Linked DNA regions of Homo sapiens: regions 1, 2 and 3 are each linked to region 4. The links come from fine-mapping of genetic effects on gene expression. A gene starts in region 4. Each other region holds a variant in brackets. All regions are shown on one strand. Distances are between the middles of the regions.

What was found. PIP is the estimated chance that this variant, and not a neighbour inherited with it, causes the effect.
Region 1: its variant is the best candidate, but not a certain one, in a credible set for the expression of BMP2K in blood mononuclear cells (TOPMed, PIP 0.69).
Region 2: its variant is the best candidate, but not a certain one, in a credible set for the expression of BMP2K in whole blood (TOPMed, PIP 0.56).
Region 3: its variant is the best candidate, but not a certain one, in a credible set for the expression of BMP2K in whole blood (TOPMed, PIP 0.73).

What each region holds. Positions count from the first base shown.
Region 1 is chr4:78,714,011-78,719,163 of GRCh38, forward strand. It overlaps LOC101928893 (a long non-coding RNA gene), which reads left to right and starts at 2,071. Exons shown (of 3, transcript NR_188357.1): 1 at 2,071-2,125. RefSeq lists enhancers at 807-1,753, 4,504-5,075, 5,076-5,153. The variant G/A (reference allele first, on the strand shown) is at 2,994.
Region 2 is chr4:78,649,983-78,655,135 of GRCh38, forward strand. All of the region lies in intron 1 of LINC01094 (long intergenic non-protein coding RNA 1094), which reads left to right. Among named protein-coding and RNA genes, the nearest start is that of LINC01094, 6.6 kb to the left of the region's middle. The variant T/C (reference allele first, on the strand shown) is at 3,140.
Region 3 is chr4:78,942,268-78,947,420 of GRCh38, forward strand. No RefSeq gene overlaps it. Among named protein-coding and RNA genes, the nearest start is that of PAQR3, 5.4 kb to the left of the region's middle. The variant A/G (reference allele first, on the strand shown) is at 2,121.
Region 4 is chr4:78,774,160-78,779,312 of GRCh38, forward strand. It overlaps BMP2K (BMP2 inducible kinase), which reads left to right and starts at 2,191. Exons shown (of 16, transcript NM_198892.2): 1 at 2,191-2,562. The coding sequence starts at 2,385. BMP2K-DT (BMP2K divergent transcript) reads right to left here and starts at 1,811. Exons shown (of 1, transcript NR_186689.1): 1 at 1-1,811. RefSeq lists enhancers at 1,427-2,057, 2,690-3,320 and silencers at 1,524-1,773, 1,864-2,533, 2,895-3,095.

The sequences.
Region 1 (5,153 bases), 60 kb before region 4:
GGGGGTTTGTTCTCTGGCGGGCAGGAGTGGGGGGTCACAAGGTGCTCAGTGGGGGTGATTTTTGAGCCAAGATGAGCCAGGAAAAGGACTTTCACAAGGTAATGTCATCACTTAAGGCAAGGACCGGCCATTTTCACTTCTTTCGTGGTGGAATGTCATCAGTTAAGGTGGGGCAGGGCATATTCACTTCTTTTGTGATTCTTCAGTTACTTCAGGCCATCTGGGCATATACGTGCAAGTCACAGGGGAAGCGATGGCTTGGCTTGGGCTCAGAGGCCTGACATTCCTGCCTTCTTATATTAATAAGAAAAATAAAACAAAATAGTGTCGAAGTGTTGGGGCAGCGAAAATTTTTGGGGGGTGGTATGGAGAGAGAATGGGCGATGTTTCTCAGGGCTGCTTCAAGCGGGATTAGGGGCGGCGTGGGAACCTAGAGTGGGAGAGATTAAGCTGAAGGGAGGTCTTGTGGTAAGGGGTGATATTGTGGGGATGTTAGAAGAAACATTTGTCATATAGAATGATTGATGATGGCCTGGATACGGTTTTGTATGAATTGAAAAACTAAATGGAATAACAAAAGGAGAAAAACAGGTATAAAAGGTCTAAGAATTGGGATGACTCAGGATATCTGATTAGAGACTGCCTAAGGAGATTCAGCATAGTCCTGCCAGCAAAGATTATTTATTTACTTCAAGAGTTAAGAGTGGCAGTTTGGGGATAGCACCAGGAGATATCAGCTGTGATGGCTTGGAAAAACAGTGTAAACCGGCAGTGTAAACAAGAGCAGGGCATGTTTGAGTAGTTGAGAACGGTGAATAGGAGTATGACTAGACAGAAGGTAGTAGGGATGACAAGTTTTTTGGGGCACAGTCTAAGTTGGTCTGGTGTCTGGAATGAGACTGGGACCTAATAAAAAGGAGCGTCTATACAGGAGCTTAAATGGGCTGTATCCTGTAGCATTCCGAGGATAAGCCTGAATTCTGAGAAGGGAAAGTGGTAAAAGTATTGTCCAATCCTTTTTAAGTTGGTGGCTGAGCTTGGTGAGGTGTGTTTTTAAAAGACCTTTAGTCCATTCTACTTTTCTTGAAGATGGAGGACCATAAGGGATATAAAGGTTTCACTGAATACTAAGAGCCTGAAAAACTGCTTGGCTGATTTGACTAATAAAGGCTCATCTGTTATCAGACTGTATTGAGGTGGGAAGGCTAAACTGAGGAATTATGTCTGACAGAACAGAAGAAATGACTGTGGTGGCCTTCTCAGACCCTGTAGGAAAGGCCTTTACTTATTCAGTGAAAGTGTCTATTTAGACTACAAGGTATTTTAGTTTCCTGACTTGGGCATGTTGAGTAAAGCTAATTTGCCAGTCCTGGGTGGGGGCAAATCCTTGAGCTTGATGTGTAGGGAAGGGAGAGGGCCTGAAGAATCCCTAAGGAGTAGTAGAATAGCAGATGGAACACTGAGAAATTATTTCCTTGAGGATAGATTTCCACGATGGAAAGGAAATGAGAGGTTCTAAGAGGCGGGCTAGTGGCTTGTGCTATAGCATAGCCTGCCTTTGCTGGTGTGTGGCGATTAGGCCTGGTGGAACTGCCATCAATAAATCAAGCGTGATCAGGGTGAGGAACAGGAAAGAAGGAAATATGGGGAAATGGGGTGAATGTCAGGTGGATCAGAGAGATACAGCCATGGGGGTCAGGTGTGGTATCAGAAATAATGTGGGAGGCCGGATTGAAGTCCGTGCCAGGAACAATGGTAATTGTGGGAGACTTAACAAAGAGTGAGTACAGCTGAAGGAGCCGGGAAGCAGAAAGTATATGTGTCAGGTATGAGGAAGAAAATAGATTTTGGAAGTTATGAGAACTGTAGAGAGTGAGTTGAGCATAGTTTGTGATTTTGAGGGCCTCTAAACGTATTACAGCAGTGGCAGCTGCTGCACGCAGACATGAGGGCTAGGCTAAAACAGTAAGGTCAAGTTTGGACAGAAAGGCTACAGGGTGTGGTCCTGGCTCTTGTGTAAGAATTCTGACCGCGCTAACCATGCCTAGGAAGGAAAGGAGTTGTTGTTTTGTAGAAGGTGCTGGGGTTTGAGGGGTCAGTCGGACACGATTGGCAGGGAGAGCACGTGAGTTTTTATGAGAATTATGCCGAGATAGGTAACAGATGAGGAAGAAATTTGGGCTTGATTGAAGTAATGGGGGCTGTCTGTGAAGCTTTGCGGCAGTACAGCCTAGGTAATTTGCTGAGCTTGATGGGTGTCAGGGTCAGTCCAAGTGAAAGCGAAGAGAGGCTGGGATTAAGGGTGCAAAGGAATAGTAAAGAAAGCATGTTTGAGATCTAGAACAGAATAATGGGTTGTAGAGGCAGGTATTGAGGATAGGAGAGTATATGGGTTTGGCACCGTGGGGTGGATAGGCAAAACAATTTGGTTGATAAGGCGCAGATCCTGAACTAACTTGTAAGGCTTCTCTGGTTTTAGGACAGGTAAAATGGGGGAATTGTAGGGAGAGTTTATAGGCTTTAAAAGGCCATGCTGTAGCAGGCGAGTGATAACAGGCTTTAATCTTTTTAAAGTGTGCTGCGGGATGGGATATTGGCGTTGAGTGGGGTAAGGGTGATTAGGTTTTAATGAGATGGTAAGGGGTGCATGATCGGTCACCAAGGAGGGAGTAGAGGTATCTTATACTTGTGGGTTAAGATGGGGAGATACAAGAGGAGGACACAAAGGAGGCTTTGGATTGGGAAGAAGGGCATCAATGAGATATAGCTGTAGTCCAGGAATAGTCAGGGAAGCAGATAATTTAGTTAAAGTGTCTCAGCCTAATAAGGGAACCCGGCAGGTGGGGATAACTAAAAAGGAGTGCTTAAAAGAGTATTGTCTAAGTTGGCACCAGATGGGGAGTTTTAAGAGGTTTAGAAGCCTGGCTGTCAATACCCACAACAGTTATGGAGGCAAGGGAAACAGGCCCTTGAAAAGAAGGTAATGTGGAGTG[G/A]GTAGCCTCCATATTGATTAAGAAGGGGATGGGCTTACCTTCCACTGTGAGAGTTACTGGGAGCTTGGCGTCCGTGATGGTCTAGGGGGCTTCCGAGGTGATCAGGCAGTGTCAGTCTTCAGCCGCTAAGCCGAGAAGATCTGGGAAGGAGTCAGTCAGAGAGCCTTGGGCCAGAGTTCCAGGGGCTCTGGGAGTGGCTGCCAGGTGAGTTGAACAGTCCGATTTTCAGTGGGGTCCCACACAGATGGGATGCGGCTTAATAGGAATCCCAGGCTGCAGGCATTCCTTGGCCTAGTGGCCAGATTTCCGGCACGTGTAGCAAGCTCCTGTGGGAGGAGGTTCTGGAGGAACGCCTGGTCGCTGCAGTTCAGGTGTTTGGAAGTTCTTGTGTGCTGGAGATGTGGCTGGGGTTTGTCTCACAGTGGAGGCAAGGAATTGCAACTTTTTTCTATTATTGTACACCTTGAAGGCGAGGTTAATTAAATCCTGTTGTGGGGTTTGAGGGCGGGAATTTAATTTTTGGAGTTTTATTTAATGTTGGGAGCAGATTGGGTAATAAAATGTATTTTGAGAATAAGACGGCCTTTTGACTTTTTAGGGTCTAGGGCTGTAAAGTGTCTCAGGGTTGCTGCCAAACAAGTCATGAACTGGGCTGGATTTTTATATTTGATGAAAAAGAGCCTAAACGCTTCTGATTTGGGATGAAGAAAAAGGAGCATTAACCTTGACTATGCCTTTATCTCCAGCCACCTTTTTAAGAGTAAATTGCTGGGCAGGAGGGGGAGGGCTAGTCATGGAACGAAACTGTAAGCCAGACCAGGTGTGAGGAGGGGAGATGATAAAAAGATTATAGGGTGGAGGAGCAGAGGCTGAGGAAGAATTGGGACCTAGCTCGGCCTGGCGAGGAGCAGCCTGGGGAGGAAGGGAGAGGTCAGATGGGTCTGTAGAAAGGGAAGATTAGAAAGACTCAGCGACGCTTGGGGTTGGTACTGAGGGGACAGGCGGGAGGGACAGAAGGAAGATTTGGGAAGAGTTGCACTGGGCACAGAGACTAGGAAGGGACTGATGTGTAAAAGAATGCCTGGACGTCAGGCACCTCAGACCGTTTGCCTATTTTACGGCAAGAATTATTTAGATCTTGCAGGATGGAAAAATTCAAAGTGCCATTTTCTGGCTATTTGGAACTACTGTCGAGTTTGTATTGGGGTCAAGCGGCATTGCAGAAGAAAATAAGGCATTTAGGTTTTAGGTCAGGTGTGAGTTGAAGAGGTTTTAAGTTTTTGAGAACACAGGCCAAGGGAGTAGAAGGAGGAATGGAGGGTGGAAGGTTGATGATAATGAAGGAAGCAAGCCTAGAGAAAAGAGAGAGTAGAGAAATGGAGGGAAGGGGTTCGGGGGTTCTTACCTTCCAGAAAAGTGGGAAAAGGGGTTGGGGCACAGAGATAGGAGGTCAGGGCATGGAAATAAGGGATGGGGTGCAGAAATAAGGGGTTGGGGCACAGAAATAAGGGATCAGGGCATGGAAATAAGGGATCGGGGCATGGAAATAAGGGATTGGGGTGCAGAGATAAGAGGTCGGGGCACAGAAATAAGGGATTGGGGCACAGAGATATAAGAGGTTGGGGCACGGAAATAAGGGATTGGGGTGCAGAGATATGAGGTTGGGGTACTTGCCCCTCTTCTAGAAAAGCGGGACTTGCCGCTAAGAATGAAGGAGAAGGGGTTGAGGGGTACTTGCCCCTCCCCCAGAAAAGCAGAGAAGGGGTAGACACAAGGAGAGAAGGGGTTGGGGTACTTGCCCCTTCCCCAGGAAAGCAGGACTTGCTGCTAAGGGTGAAGGACCAAGGCAGGCGTCCCTGCGTGGTCTGGCACCTTTGAAACATGGGTGAATAATGACAGAGGCGTCCCTGCAATGATTAAACACCAAGGGAAGGCTGCCTTCCCAGTCCGTGACCGGCGCCGGAGTTTTGGGTCCACAGATAAAATGTGTCTCCTTTGTCTCTCCCAGAAAATGAAAGGAATTGAAATTAAGAGAGGGGAGAGATTGAAGAGTGGAAAGGAGAAAGTGGTTGAGGGACAGTGAGAGAGGTTGGAGAAGAGAGTAAGAAGAGGCTGCTTACCTGATTTAAAATTGATGAGATGTTCCTTGGGCTGGTCAGT
Region 2 (5,153 bases), 120 kb before region 4:
ACTTGCCTGTCTCTATGCACATAAATATCTGTCTTCTTTTCTTTCAATACCATGTATAGGTTGACAACACTCACATTTTCATATCTCCAGCCCAGATTTCTCCCGTGTGTCTTGACTTGATATCTAATTTCCTACATGACATCTCTCTTTGGATGACTAATAATCATCTCAAATGTGTATGTCCAATACCAGACTGCTGATCTGCCTCCAAACCTGTTTTTCCTGTAGTCTTGTGCACATAAGTTGAAGGCAACGCCATCTTTTTACTTTCTCATGCCAAAAAACTTGGAGTCCTTTTTGATTTATCTCTGTCTCTCACACCCCACATCCCATCCATCAGCAAATATTTGCATCATGTCTCACTGGATACTGCAACCATCTCCTTGCTGATCTCACTGCTTTTCAGCCTATTTCACAACCCAGCGGTTGAAATAGTTCTTTTAAAACATAGGTCAGATCATGTCATTTCTCAAACCTACCAAATACTTCCATTTCACTCAGAGTAAAATACAAAGTCCTTATAATGGCCATACACAATCTGCCCCCTCCCCATCTCCTTACCCATCTCACTTCATGTCCTGCTATTTTCTCCTTTGTTTGTCTCTGCTGCAGCCACACTGGCCTTCTTACTGTTCTATAAATATGCCAGGCACTTTCCTGCCTCAGGGTCTATGTACTTCCCATGCTTTCTGCTCTTCCAGATTTCTGCAGAGCTCATTTCCTACCTCCTTTATGTCTTTACTTGTTCATCTTCTCATGCGACTTTCCTACCATGTTTAATTGCAAACTCCTGCCCCCAACACTCCATGTCTCTCTTTCTACCTTATTTTTCTCCATCATGCTTATCACTCACCAACAGACCTCACTTATTTGGTTTATTGTCTGTCTGCCCCTACTGACAGACAGTTCTTTTATCTATTTTGATCATTGCTGTATACTTAGCACCTAGATAGTGCCTGGCACATACTTGGTGCTTCAAATACACTTGCTGAATAAAGTATGGGCATGCTATGAAAAGGCATAGATAGGTAAGGACTTTTGGGTCCAGATTGTGAGAAAGTCATTGGCACCAAGATGTTTTCACTCAATTTTCTGAGTCCTATTACAGAATCCTGGCCAAAAGTATAATACACCAAAGAACCAGAATTATCACAGGTGAAGTAAACCAGGCCAATTGTTTTCTAGATCCTCTTAGGTATTTTTGTGAATTATACATGTTATGGGAAATTTTAAACTTGTCTATACTAAAGCAAATTAGAATGCTTTGATAAAGCTTATTTTGGATTTCTCAGTGCTTCTCCTTGGTCACAAAATATGGCAAGGGGTTCTAGAAATAGATTTAGTGGGGGAAGGAAAGAAACTAACATGGAATCGAGTGACTTCTAAATTTCTAAACCCCTTACATCTCATTTAAACTTTTGACAACTTTTGAGTCAAGAAACATTATTCCAGCTATGAATATATACAAATTGAGGTTCGGGCCTGGTGAAATGACTCATGCTGGTAATCTCAGCACTTTGGGAGGCCAAGGCAAGAGGACGGCTTGAGCCCAGGATTTTGAGACCAGCATAGGCAACACAGCAAGACTCTCTCTCTACAAAAAATTAAAAATTTATCTGGGCATGGTGACACACACCTGTAATCTCAGCTACTCAAGACGCTGATCTGGGAGGATCACTTGAGCCTAAGAAATCAAGGCTGCAGTGAGTCATGATTGTGCCACAGCACTCCAGCCTGGGTGACAGAGCAAGACCTTGTCTCAAAAAACAAAAAAAAATCAAACTGAGGTTCAGAGAGAAATATTAATTTCTCCAATTTTGCACAGCCAGCAAATGGCAGGCTTAGAATTCCATCCACTAGCTAACTGAGTAGTATAGGACCTAGACCAAGCTTGTCCAACCCACGGCCCACAGACTGCATGTGGTCCAGGACATCTTTGAATATGGCCTAGAACAAATCTGTAAACTTTCTTAAACATTATGAGATTGTTTTGCGATTTTTTTTAAGCTCATCAGCTATCATTGGTGTTAGTGTATTTTATGTGTGGCCCAAGACAATTTTTCTTCCAATGTGGCCCAGGGAAGCCTTGAACACCCTGACTTAGACTTTATAGCTAATAGCTTGACAAATTAGGTGACTTAGGAGAAATCATTTAATATTTGTCTCAGTTGTCTGCCAAAAAAAAAAAAAAATGTAAATTCACTTCAGACACACATCTTAGAATAACCCAGGGTGATAATTTCAGATTTTTCTGGCTCTTGTTTATTTCTTAGCTCCTTCAGAAGAAAGAAAATGTTCTAAATGTTAGGATCCACTGGGGCTGTTATGTTTCCTAGTTCAAATCTTTAAACTGTTGTTAAACCACAACAATTACCACAAGCACAGAGCCTCCTGGAACATTTTCCCAAGTAAAACAAATACTCTAGCTGTGTGAGGGTATCAGGCAAAGCTAGAAATGGGACTCCTTGCTGGCTATCCATGTGAAGGGCTTTGTTTAAGGAAATGCTATGTTGCCAGCACAGTCACTTGTCAAAGACAATAGCTGTTGGCAAAGCATTAATATGTGAGGATTGGGAGAGCTGCCAGTGGAAGCAAACTGTTTTGTGGTGTGTACAATGTTGTGCTGGGACATCAGCTGAAGTTCACCATTGATGACCATCTGAAAACTGCCTTCCACTCACAGTACACTCAAATGGACAACTCAGCAAATTGAAGAATGAATTTCTAGGGAGAGGCAACACGGTATAATTAATGAAAAAAGAACTAGAATAGAAGTGAAAACCCCTCATTTTAATTCCAATGTTGTGACTCTGATACCTCCTTTAATTTCCCTGCATCATTTTCCTTATTCACTCACTTACCCAGGCACTCAACCAGGCATCCAGCAAGTATGTATTGAATGCCAGCTTGTATTCAAGGCACTGGGTGAAATGATGTGATCATTTCATGATTCTGCTTTATGTATGTTAGAGATAATAGTCCCATCTGCCTCAAATTGATGTAATGAGGATGAAAACCCAGTTTCCACTTTGGTAGAAATGGAAATATGTTTGTCTTGCCTACTTCATGGATCTATTATGAGAATCATAAGAGATAATTATGTGGGTATACTTAATGAACTTAAAGTGTTAGATAGATA[T/C]GCGAAAAATAAGTAAATAAATACTTTGACCAGAACAAAACTTACATCATTGCTGAATATTACTTGGGGAGAGAGGCAGAGAGAGAGAGAGGCAGAGAGAGACAGAGAGAGAGACAGACAGAGACAGAGAAAGAAAATGCAAATGAGATCCAGTGCCACTTACCTATTCTTTTCTTTTTTTCAGTGAAAGCAAGACTTACAACGATAAAAATAGAAGTTAGTTTCAATAATTATTTTTATAATTTTTTCAGTGAAAATCCACAGACAAGAACCAAACTCATGGTTCTCAAATTATACTCTTATACTGATTATCAGTAGTTTTAGGTGTTTGGGTTCTGAAATTCAATGCTAGGACTGGGAGTAGAGGATTTTATTGCTAATATATCAGGATTAGGTTTTGCTGCACATTTAAAAAAAAAAAAAAAGCAAACTACCAAAGCCTAAAGCAAGCTGGAATTTGGGGGTTTCTTTTCTCAGATAAAAGGAGTTGGAAGAGAAACTATCTAGCTATGGCCACTCCATAATATCATCTGGGACCCCCAGGCTCTTTTCTCTATTATCTTAACACATGGCTTTTATTATTAAGGTCATCTCTGGGCTGCTGAAGCTCCAGTTATCACACCTGCATTGCAAGCCAAAATAAGAAGGAGATGCAGAAAGTATCACCCCCAGCTGAGTAAAATTGTGTTAAGTAGCCCTTCTAAACGTTTTATCTAGGAATTATGCTTTCATATCTTTGACAGAGATTAGTCACGTGGCCACAGTTAGCCACAGGGGTGACTAGGAAATGTAGTTTTTGTCTTGAGAGCTATTCTGCTGGGATAAGAATCAAGGTTAGGCAACTAGCTATCTTTTCCACACAAAATATTACAGAAAAAAGATGTTAATGGATAGAATGTTCTCAATTACACATTTTTCTCCATACCTTTTACATATTCCTTTGGTTTTAAGAATATTATCATTCTCCTATAATAGTATACAATAGTATATGATTCAAAACAAAATTATAAACTGGATTTTTTTAACAATCTATTTATATTTCATTTTATCCTACAAAGAGCAACATGATTTTCAGTTGTTTTATCACATGAATATATTCAAGCCCCATTAATCCAAATCAAATAAAATTATGGAAGTCTAGAAATCCATTCTGTATGGAAGCAAGCTAACAGCAGCGTTCCATCTTCTAACAGCCTTAGCCCAGGAGCATTTACCAGTAAGCATATTGATTTGAGCGTCAGCATAAAATAAGGCATCCCTGAATTTTTACCAACAAAGAAAAGTGTCCTTGCACTGTGGTCACAGCATGTGTATCTTTCTACATCTGCCCTCAAATTCCCAACAACATGATTGTGCTCTGAGTGGAAGCCTCTTGGTGTTCTGTGTTGCCTTCATCCATATAAGTATATGTAGGTCTTTCTGTTCATTTAGAGTTTGCCTTTTGTGTGTGTGACAGGGTCTTACTCTGTCATCTAGGCTAGATAGAGTGCACCAGTGTGATTGTAGCTCACTGCAGACTTGACTTCGTGGGCTAAAGAGATCTTCCTGCCTCAGCCTCAGCCCCTGACCCCTGACCCCCAGGAATTACTGGTGCATACCACTATGCCCAGCTAATTTTTTATTCTTTATTTTTTAGAGATGGGGTCTGATTATGTTTCCCAGGCTGGTCTCAAACTCCTGGGCTCAAGTGATCCTTCCACCCCACTGTCCCAAGTGTTAGAGCACATCATGGGTGTCAGCTACTGCACCCAGAGAGAATCTGCCTTAAGACTTTAAAGAATTCTGAGCAATAGTGTCTGAGGGGCTCATTCCCTAACCTAACGAGGATTACAAACCAGCTGGGTTATGAAAGAGCAGCAGCCATCCAAAACTGTCCTGATTGGGGAAGTGAACTCTGCATGCCACAAAGCAGGAATGGCAGCCAAATGAGAAACATATGCTCTGGATTCTGATGCAAAGTTTTTATTTCTTTAAAAACAACTGCATTAAAGTGACATAAACTTAAATTTAATCC
Region 3 (5,153 bases), 170 kb after region 4:
GATGTGGGAAGAGAATCCGTAGCCTGTTATTTGAAACAAAGTAGAAAGATGCCCAGAGATTATCAGACACAGAGAAAGTAGCTGAGTTATGATAATGATGGGACACTAGAGTAAAGAACTAAAAATGGCACTTTGGGAGGCCGAGGCAGGCGGATCACGAGGTCAGGAGATTGAGACCATCCTGGGTAACACCGTGAAACCCTGTCTCTACTAAAAATACAAAAAATTAGCCGGGTGTGGTAGCGGGTGCCTGTAGTCCCAGCTACATGGAAGGCTGAGGCAGGAGAATAGCATGTATCCGAGAGGTGGAGCTGGCAGTGAGCCGAGATTGCGCCACTGCACTCCAGCCTGGGTGACAGAGCGAGACTCCGTCTCAAAAAAAAAAAAAAAAAACCCTAAAAATGGGAACTGCTTTGGTCTTCAGCAGTGTACCCATGAAACCTTTTGCAAAATGACTTCTGGATTTATTTCAACAATTTATGGCCTTTTTCAGTTCTCCCTAGTCCATTTACATGACTTAACTTTCCAGTTATGCACTCTAACAACAAGCACTAAAAAAACACTTATAAAATTCACAAACAAATATGAAAAGGTAGATATAGCAACAATCCATGCCTGAGTCCTAGAGTGAGAAAGAGATCTATAGGTAAAAAAACAAAATAATAGAAATGGAAAGAGCTCTTCTATTCAAATCTGTAAGACAATGGAAGCAGGAGCAACACTGCTTTGGGACACCTCTAACAGAGGGTAACACAAAGGTGAGAGGGCGCATTTCCCCACAGATAACAATGACATTGTGGCACTTTGAGGGCTCTGGCTGTTTAGTCATGGTGCTTAACAGAGATCTTCAGCAGCATGTCTGGTGGAAGAATAAAACTTGTTGATGCACTTGGTGAGGCACCAGCATCTGTGATAGGTGGAGATCGACAGCATCCAGCAGGAGACTTTGGTGCCTCTTGAAGTGGCAGGTTGGGGAACTGAACTGTCCAGTCAAAGATAATGGGAAAATGGTAGCACCCTATCATGAACAACTGCGAGACAAATCCTGGATTTTAGAGATGCTTGAGGTGGTGTGGATGGGAATGGGATGCAGTTCTCAAGGAGCTGAAGTCCTGAATTTCCAAGTGGGAGCAGGAGCCTGGGGACAGGAGACATGGGGGCTGAATGGGGCCTTTGGGGTAAGACAGATCGCCTCCCCTCTCCTCCCCTCCCCTCCTTCCCTCCTTCCCTTCCTTCCTTCCTTCCTTGCCCTTTCTGCATTTGTTACAATTCAAACAGTGTTGGAGTGAGATTTGCAGGTATTGAGATGTCCACAACACAGAACTTTACATTTACTGAATTCTGACAATGTGCCACACATTTTCCTATATGCTAACAGAGATGAATAAGACAAATTTTAGACAACAACCTTTGCAGATTTCAGCAGCACTAACATTTTGATCACTCTACCATTGAACTCTCTTTTCTGGACTTTTGGGACCACCCTCATCTGGACTCTTTTCCTTATCTTTCTGGCTTGTCTATAAAGTCCCAAGGGACTTTATAGCCACTGTTTCTCTGTCTGACCCTTCCGAATGTTTTCAGGATTCCTTCTTCAGTGTTGTAAATTCTATTTTTTCCCTTTATATTTCCATGGCTTCAGTTACTGTCTTTTTCAGGTTGGATCTCCTTTCTATGCATCTGGATTTGCATGTGGAGCCGGACATAGAAACCTGAAATATTACAAATGAACTGTTATATTTTCTCCTAAATCTATTTACATCCCTAAATCTCTATTTACTCAGCCTCTTAAGCCAAAAGTCTTGCAGTCATCTCTTCCCTTGGCACAATTTTATTAGTAACCTCCTTTGCTTCCTTCCCCATCACTGCAACCAGTTCCTTGTCAATGATTTTTGACTCCCCTGCCTAATTAAGCTTGTCTGAAAAAACAAAGAAGCAGTTCATCAATTTAACTATGTCCTCTTTAATTCTACAACCATATTGCTAAAGAAAATGACAGGATGGCATGGATTGGTATTTCTACAAGTTGTTTACAATCTCTACAGAACCTTCAACATCATTTGGATATTTTAAATGTTTACTTGACATTATATGTGCCCATCTCCCCTCTTCCTTAGCAA[A/G]TCAGCTGTTTCCTATCTCACAGAGAAAATAGAGGTCATAGAGTAGGAACTCTCTCAGCTTTCTACTGCTAGCCTTCCACCTGTAAGTTCACTCACAATTAAAGCCCATTCTTTGTTTCCTTTCCTCTGTCTCAATAGAAATGACTACTTTAACACCTCCTACTTAAGGTCAACCCTGCTGCCTATTTTCTGAATCATGCTCCCCTTCGTTTCCTAATGGACCTTGCTCTGTCAATTATCCTTCTCTCAGATATGTCTCCAACCTTTCCTTCTCTATTTTTTTCCCCTTTGGTTCTTAAACATGTTGCAAACAAGCATTTTTGAGTAAACAGACTATAGAATGAGAGAAAATATTTTGAGTAAACAGACTATAGAATGAGAGAAACAGACTATAGAATGAGAGAAAATATAGAATGAGAGAAAAAAAACCTCTGTAATTTTTTTTAACATTTCAACTTTTATTATAGGTGAAAGGGTACCTGTGAAGGTTTCTTACATGGGTAAACTGCATGACACTGAGGCTTCAGGCCATCCAGGCAATAAGCATAGAACCCAACAGGTGGTTCTTTGGCCCATGCCCCCCTCTCTCCCTCCTCGATCTAGTGATCCCCAGTGTCTCTTTTTCCCATTTTTACAATCACGTGGATTCAATGTTGAGCTCCCACTTGTGAGAACACGTGGTATTTGGTTTTCTGTTCTTGTGTTAGGTCAGGTCGCTTAGGATAATGATCTCCAGCTCCATCCATGTTCCTGCAAAGCGCTGAAAGAACGATTTTGTTCTTTTTTTTGGCTACTCAGTATTCTGTGGTGTATATGTACCACATTTTCTTTAGTCCATTGTTGATGGGTATTTAGGCTGATTTCATGTCCTTGCTATTGTGAATAGTGCTGCAATGAACATACAGGTGCATGTGTCTTTATGACGGGATGAGTTATTTTCCTTTGAGTATATACCCAGTAGTGGGATTGCTGGGTCAGATGGTAGTTCTATTTTAGGTTTCTTGAGAAATCTCCAAACCACTTTCCACAGTGGCTGAACTAGTTTACATTCCCATCAACAATATATAAGCATTCCCATTTCTCCACAGTCTCACTGTATTAGTCTGTTTTCACACTGCTATAAAGATACTACCTGAGACTGGGTAATTTATAAAGGAAAGAGGTTTAGTTGACTCACAGTTCCACATGGCTGGGAAGGCCTCGGGAAATTTACAATCATGGCAGAAGGCAAAGGAAAAGCAAGCACTTTCTTACATGGCAGTAGGAGAGAAAGAGCAGGCAGGGGAAACTGCCACTTTTAAGCTATCAGATCTTCTGAGAACTCCCTTCCTATCATGAGAACAGCATGGGAGAACTGCTTCCATGATCCAGTCACCTCCCACAGGGTCCTTCCCTTGACATGAGGAGATTACAGTTTGAGATGAGATTTGGGTGGTGACACAGAGCCAAACCATATCACTCACCCTCTGTTGCTTTTTGACTTTTAAATAATCGCCACCATTCTGACTGGTATGAGATGATATCTCATTGTGGTTTTGATTTGCATTTCTCTGATGAGTACTGATGTTGAGCATTTTTTCATATTTTTTTTGGCCACTTGTGTGTCGTCTTTTGAGAAATGTCTGTTCATGTCCTTTGCCCATTTTTTAATTGGATTGTTTGGTTTTTGCTTGTTTATTTTTTTAAAGTTCCTTGTAGATTCTAGATATTAGTTCTTAGTCAGATACATAGTTTGCAAATATTTTCTTCCATTCTGTAGTCTGTTTATCTGTTGGTAATTCATTTTGCCGTGCAGAAGTTCTCTAATTAAGTCCCACTTGTCAGTTTTTGTTTTTGTCACAATTAACATAAATTCTTTGCCAAAGCCTATGTTGAGAAGGGTATTTCCTAGGTCTTTTTCCAGGCTTTTTGTAGTTTGAGGTCATACATTTAAATCTTTAATCTATCTCGAGACAATTTTCATATACGGTGAAAGGTAGGGGTCCAGTTTTATTCTTCTGCATATGGCTAGCCGCTTATCCCAGCACAATTCCCCATTGCTTGTTTTTGTTGATTTTTGTCTAAGATCAGATGGTTGTAGGTATGTGGGCTTATTTCTGGGTTCTCTATTCTGTTCACTGTTGTATGTGTCTGTTTTTATACCGTTACCCTGTTGTTTTGATTACTGTAGCCTTGTAGTATAGTTTGAAGTCAGATAGTGGGATGTCTCTGAATATGTTCTTTTTGTTAGGATTGCTTTGGCTATTCGGGCTCTTTTTTGGTTCCAAATGAATTTTAGAATAGCTTTTTCTAAATCTGTGAAAAATGACACTGGTATTTTGATAGGAATGGAGTTGAATCTGTAAATTGCTTTGGGTAGTATGGCCGTTTTAACTATATTGATTTTTCCAAGCCATGAGCATGGAATATTTTATATTTCTTTGTATTGTTTCTGATTTATTTGAGCAGTGTTTTGTAGTTCTCATTATAGAGATCTTTCACTTCCTTTATTAGATGGATTCTTAGGTATTTCATTTTCTTTGTGTCTATAGTAAATGAGATTGTGTTCTTAATTTGGTTCTCAGCTAGAACACTGTTGATGTAAAAATGCTACTGATTTTTGTACTTTGATTTTGTATCCTGAAACTTTACTCAATTTGTTTATCAGATCCAGGAGCCTTTTGGCAGAATCTTTAGGGTTTTCTAGGTATAGGATCATATTTTCGGCAAAGGGATAGTTTGACTTCTTCTTTTCCTATTTGGATGCCTTTTATTTCTTTCTCTTGTCTGATTTCCCTGGCTAGGACTTCCAGTACTATATCGAATAGGAATGGTGAGAGTAGGCATCCTTGTCTTGTTTCACTTCTCAGTGGGAATGGTTCCCGTTTTTGGACTGTTCAGTATGATGTTGGCTGTAGGTTTATCATAGATAGCTCTTATTATGTGGATGTATGTTCCTTCAATGCCTAATCTGTTGAGGGTTTCTACCATGAAGGGATGCTGGATTTTATTGAAGGCTTTTCCTGCATCTATTGAGATGATCTTATGGTTTTC
Region 4 (5,153 bases):
AGCGCACTGCAGCCTTGAACTCCTTGGTTCAAGCGATCCTCCTGCCTCAGCCTCCTGAGTAGCTGGGATTACAGGTGCACCACCACCATACCTGGCTAATTTTTAATTTTTTTTTTTTTTTTTTTTAAAGAGATGAGGTCTTGTTATGTTGACCATGCTGGTTTTGAACTCCTGGCCTCAAGTGATCCTCGTAAACTAACTTTGAAACTTATTATAGCAGGCTTGTTGTGATCAGGTGAAGTTATATCAGGCCCAAACTTTGTATGTTTGTCTGACTCCAGTTTTGAATTGCATGAAATGACTTAATCTTTCCATTATTCTGCTTAAAAAACAATTCAAATTTAGGAATGAGACTCCACAATGAAGCCCCACAGCAACGAAAGTGGTCAGCTTGTTTCTAAATGGAAATCCCCAACTGCCACACCACATCAATCATCTGACATATAATCTCACTTCCACTAAGCTGGAATCTACTTTAAACGTCAGGTCTCTGGATGAAGAATTTTAGTTTAGTGGGTTATGTAGCAGAAATGCCTAAATCCAGAGCACTATTTTAGTGTTGGCAGAAATAGCTTCTCTTCAAATAGCAGGGAAGAAAGAACAAGGATTTTAAGTTCAAAGTTTTTGTCTAAGCACATTTTCTAATGTTTCTACCCGTTATCTCATTAAAAAGAATAAAGAAATAGGGGTGGGGATAGAACCACATTCATCTACTTTCATAGAAGGTGCATACTGGAGTCCTGCAGATACAATTTATTTGATCTATATTTTAAAAATTAGGGAAATGCCACATTAGAAAACAGTTCCAGGTTTTTGGTTCTCTTAAGAAACTGGAACCTCTGGGCACAGTGTGTGTGCCTATCTTCTTTTGTGGAAAAGTAGGCTGGAGCTGAGAATTGGCTGCTCTCTTTACACAGGCTCTACAGTTTGCCATTCCCTACCACTCCTGAATGTTTTACACCCATATTTATTTTGTTGCTTCACCCTGCAGTCGGGAGACTCCTGCAGTTTATGAAATTGATACAACAGGGCTTTTTTTTTTTTTTTTTTTTTTGGTAGGGGGTGCAAATCTCTTTGATTTGAGGGGAACGCAGTGGTCGCTTTTGCTTCCAAACAGCCTTAAATCTGCCCGTTTTTCAACGATCTGACCTTACTTTTTCAGGGTGGCCAAAAGCACAAAATTATGAATCAAAGAATGGTCCCCAATTACCACGAGCCAGCTGTGTGACCTTGGGCGACTCCGTTAAGTTCTTTTAGCCAAGAGTGATGAATGGTCTGCAAAACGACCTTAATACCTGTTCTGAATACCCCCACATGGCTGTGGTACAGCAGGCGTGAGATGTTTAAAGTACTCCTAAGTAATTTATAAACTGCAAAACGCTTCCCAGCACAAGCGTCCGCTACAGAGCGCGACGACACCGAGCCGGTTTAGAAGTCCAGTTACTGGAATCCACTCCAGTTCCGTCCTGCTCCCACCTCCTACGCTCAGGGTGGGCGAGCGGAAGGAGACTCTCAAGGGAGAAGGCCTGGAAAACTGGCTAAGAAACGAAGCGAGAAGTTCCTCAGCAGGGGTAAAGTTGTTGGCGGCATTTTTAAGCCCCTAGAGTGGCACAGCGACTCCCGGTCGAGATGACGGACCCCGGTGCGTGACCAGCGCGGGAGCCAGTCCCGGGCCACCTCCCTGCTTGAAGTCGGGCCTGGCCAGTACCCTCCCGGCGCAACCCCGGACCCGGGACCCCCGACTTTGCCCTAGTCCCCAACCCCCACAATCACCTCCCTTGGTCCCCCTCCACGTGACAAGAGCCGGAACCGTCACTTCCGGCGGCGCGGGCAGCGCGCCTGCGCGGGTCGCCCGGCCTCAGTGAGCGGTTGGCAGCAGCGCCCCCCCCCCCCCCCCGCCAACGGCCACGAGTGGCGGGCGGCGCGGGTTCGGCCGGGGCGGCGGCGGCGCGACGGGCTGCGGTCCTGCGGGTTTGTGGCCTGAGACGTCTAGCCCACTCCCTGGAGGGGCCGGCCGCCCAGCCTCTTTCGCTCTCTTCCTCTACCCCGGCTCGCGCTCCAGGCGCTTAGTGAGGCGGCGGGACGCCCGGGGCACTGGCGGAGGCGGCGGCGTCGCCCCTGGATTCGGACCCGCCCCCTCGCGCCCCGCCCCGTCCCCGCCCTCCCCACCGCCCTCTGCGGGAGCCGGGCAGCTGCAGCGGAGCCGCGGAGCGGGCGGCGGGGCCCAGGCTGTGCGCTTGGGGAGCGCGGAATGTGAGGCTTGGCGGGCCGCAGCACGCTCGGACGGGCCAGGGGCGGCGACCCCTCGCGGACGCCCGGCTGCGCGCCGGGCCGGGGACTTGCCCTTGCACGCTCCCTGCGCCCTCCAGCTCGCCGGCGGGACCATGAAGAAGTTCTCTCGGATGCCCAAGTCGGAGGGCGGCAGCGGCGGCGGAGCGGCGGGTGGCGGGGCTGGCGGGGCCGGGGCCGGGGCCGGCTGCGGCTCCGGCGGCTCGTCCGTGGGGGTCCGGGTGTTCGCGGTCGGCCGCCACCAGGTCACCCTGGAAGAGTCGCTGGCCGAAGGTACGGGCGCCCGGGGAGGCTCGGACAGGCAGGTGAGGGAGGGTTGGGGTGTGGCGGCGGCTTCTCCGGGTCCTCGCCCTCCGGACTGACTCTTATACCCCATTCTTCCTCTGCTGCCGGGCCAGCGGGGGCTCCTAAAGAGTGGCTCGGGCTTTCTCTCTTAAGCTGGCTTTTCTTGCCGCTGGCTGCCCCGGCCGGTGCACAGTTCTCTCATGCCTAGTTTAAATCATTTTCTGTGCTTTTTGACGCGAGAAAATAGGTAGTAGACGGGCTAGGAAGTGGGTTGGTGTTACGATTGGGCCAGTGACTCATTAGAGGGTCAGATCGAACAGGGTTGAAGCTCCGTTCTGCCAGCTGTGGCTCAGACGGGTGTCATGCGTTGGCCTTTTCATCTAAGCCTCCACCCGCGCTGCAGGGCATAGGACCCTGCAGCCCCTGGTGTCAAGCTGGGCTTTGCTGCAGCTCAGTCATCTGTTGAAAAACAATGTATTTGTGTGCATGTGTGCGTGTTGGAGGTGATCCTTTGCTCTAAATTCAGTTAGTAGGTTGCACTGAGGAGCAGGTAAACTTGGAGCCCATTTATCTTTGTTATTTAGAATCTTCTCTGTTGGACAAGGTGCTATTCATGCCCTCCCAGTATGTCTCTTTGATAGTAGTTTAAAAGGTGATATAAAAGCAGGTTAACTTTCACTTAACGAGGTTTTGTGGTCGGTCCTTCATGATCTGGAACAGGTTATGACGGCAGGTAGAAGTCTACTTACAAAAAAAGTTTACTCCATTTTAAAAGAAGAACTTAGAATTTAGTTTTGTATTTCTGGCATAATTGCCTTGTAGAAAATACTTGCCCTGTGTGCTGCATGCTTCATTGGCCTTTGAGTTTTTAGTTGCAAAATGATACTACAAAATAAACACTTTAAAAGAAATACTTTTTGTTGATAAATGGCCCTTTTAAGTTCTATGGTTAAGATAAAAAAAATCGAAGAGTGGATTCAGTTCTCCGAGCGTTAGACGTTGATGTGGTTTGAAAACAGTAGACTGAGATTCCGCTTGTATTTTTTGAAATGCTATACACAACAGTAAATTAGCACAAGGGAAAAAACCTGAAGATTTTTGTATAAAATATTTGAAAGAGAAAGAAATCGTGAATTATTCAAGTGTACATATCATTGTTTCGTGAACCATTGCTCAGAATAATGATCTTAGCCGAAACTTGGAGAGGTGGGAGAAGGAGGATCCTTAGTTTTTCAGAAGAATGAATATGTGGTGAGTGGTCTTTATAAAAGATTTACTATACTATAAAGTTTTCTAGCTCTTTATTACACATGAATTTCAATTATTGGTTTAGATTGTGTTGTAGGTTTTAAAAGCACATGGCTCTTCACTCAAATGCCATATTCTGTCTTTGAATTGTTTTAGTAACTAATTGAAATGTAGCTTGAGTAGTGTTACACTCACTCATTCCACTAAATCCCAGATGGGTCTTTTATTTAATAGAAAAAAAATACTGACATTTCACAAATTAGATTTTGAATTTGTAACTTGTATTACTCACTACCCTAAGCATATCTTATCACTACCCTAAGCAAGCCATTTTCAATAAAAAAATAATTTTGGAAAGTAATAAAGATGAATTTCAAAAGGAGAGTTCGTTCAACCACAACGAAGAATAAAAGTTTATTTCAAGCGCTAATGTCACTGTTAGAGTGTTCCACTGACTTTTGCCATAAATGTATCATTTCTCTTGAAAAGTCAATAATCAAATGCTAGGAGGAAGCAAGGACTGAAGAAATCCTTTTAGAAGATGAAACTTCTCCATCCTACACCCCAGCTTTAATTTCCTAGAAGGGAGGCCAAGGCCTAGGTTTTCTTTCCTTGTGTATTTTTTCTGTCTCCATCACCCACACAACTGGAATTGTCTATGTATAATCAGTTTAATTTTGATCCTGGCCGGTCTTATTTCAGATGCTTAATATCCCCTCTCCCTTCCTAATAAATAGTGCCACAATTTAGACAAGATGTTTAAGCACAAGTCTAGTTCGCATTTAAGCGTGATTAATCAATAATTGATGGGTCTGCCTGATCATAAGATTGGGTCATGTACTTGTGAAAATGCATTCAAGTTTAGAGTACTTGATTTGGGGAGAGGGATACCACTGAGTAGGCAAAGCGGTAGAAGCTAAGATAGACCAAAGCACAGACTTGGTAGATTTTGCATTTTTTGTTTTGGCCCAAAGTTGTTTAAACAGAGCCAGGAAGACTCAGTAGATACTGTGCCCTGAAGTGTTTTTGCCATGCTCCTGCAAACATTGGTAGTTTACTCATAATGACCTCTGCAGTGTCTTTTTAATAAATCCGTCCGTCTCTCTGTTGTTATTTTTATATAATTAGTTATGTTGCAAAAAGTCACCGTGAAAACTGGATTAGCAAACACTGAACCACTGCTCCTACTATGGTGTTAGATTCCTGAAAGCTGCTGTTCACAACATTTTTGTCAACTGATCAAGATACAACCTTGTTTTATGTCTGTTGCAGTTTAAATACACCTTATTTAATATATTTGGTTGATTTATTAACATTGAAATCATGGCCAA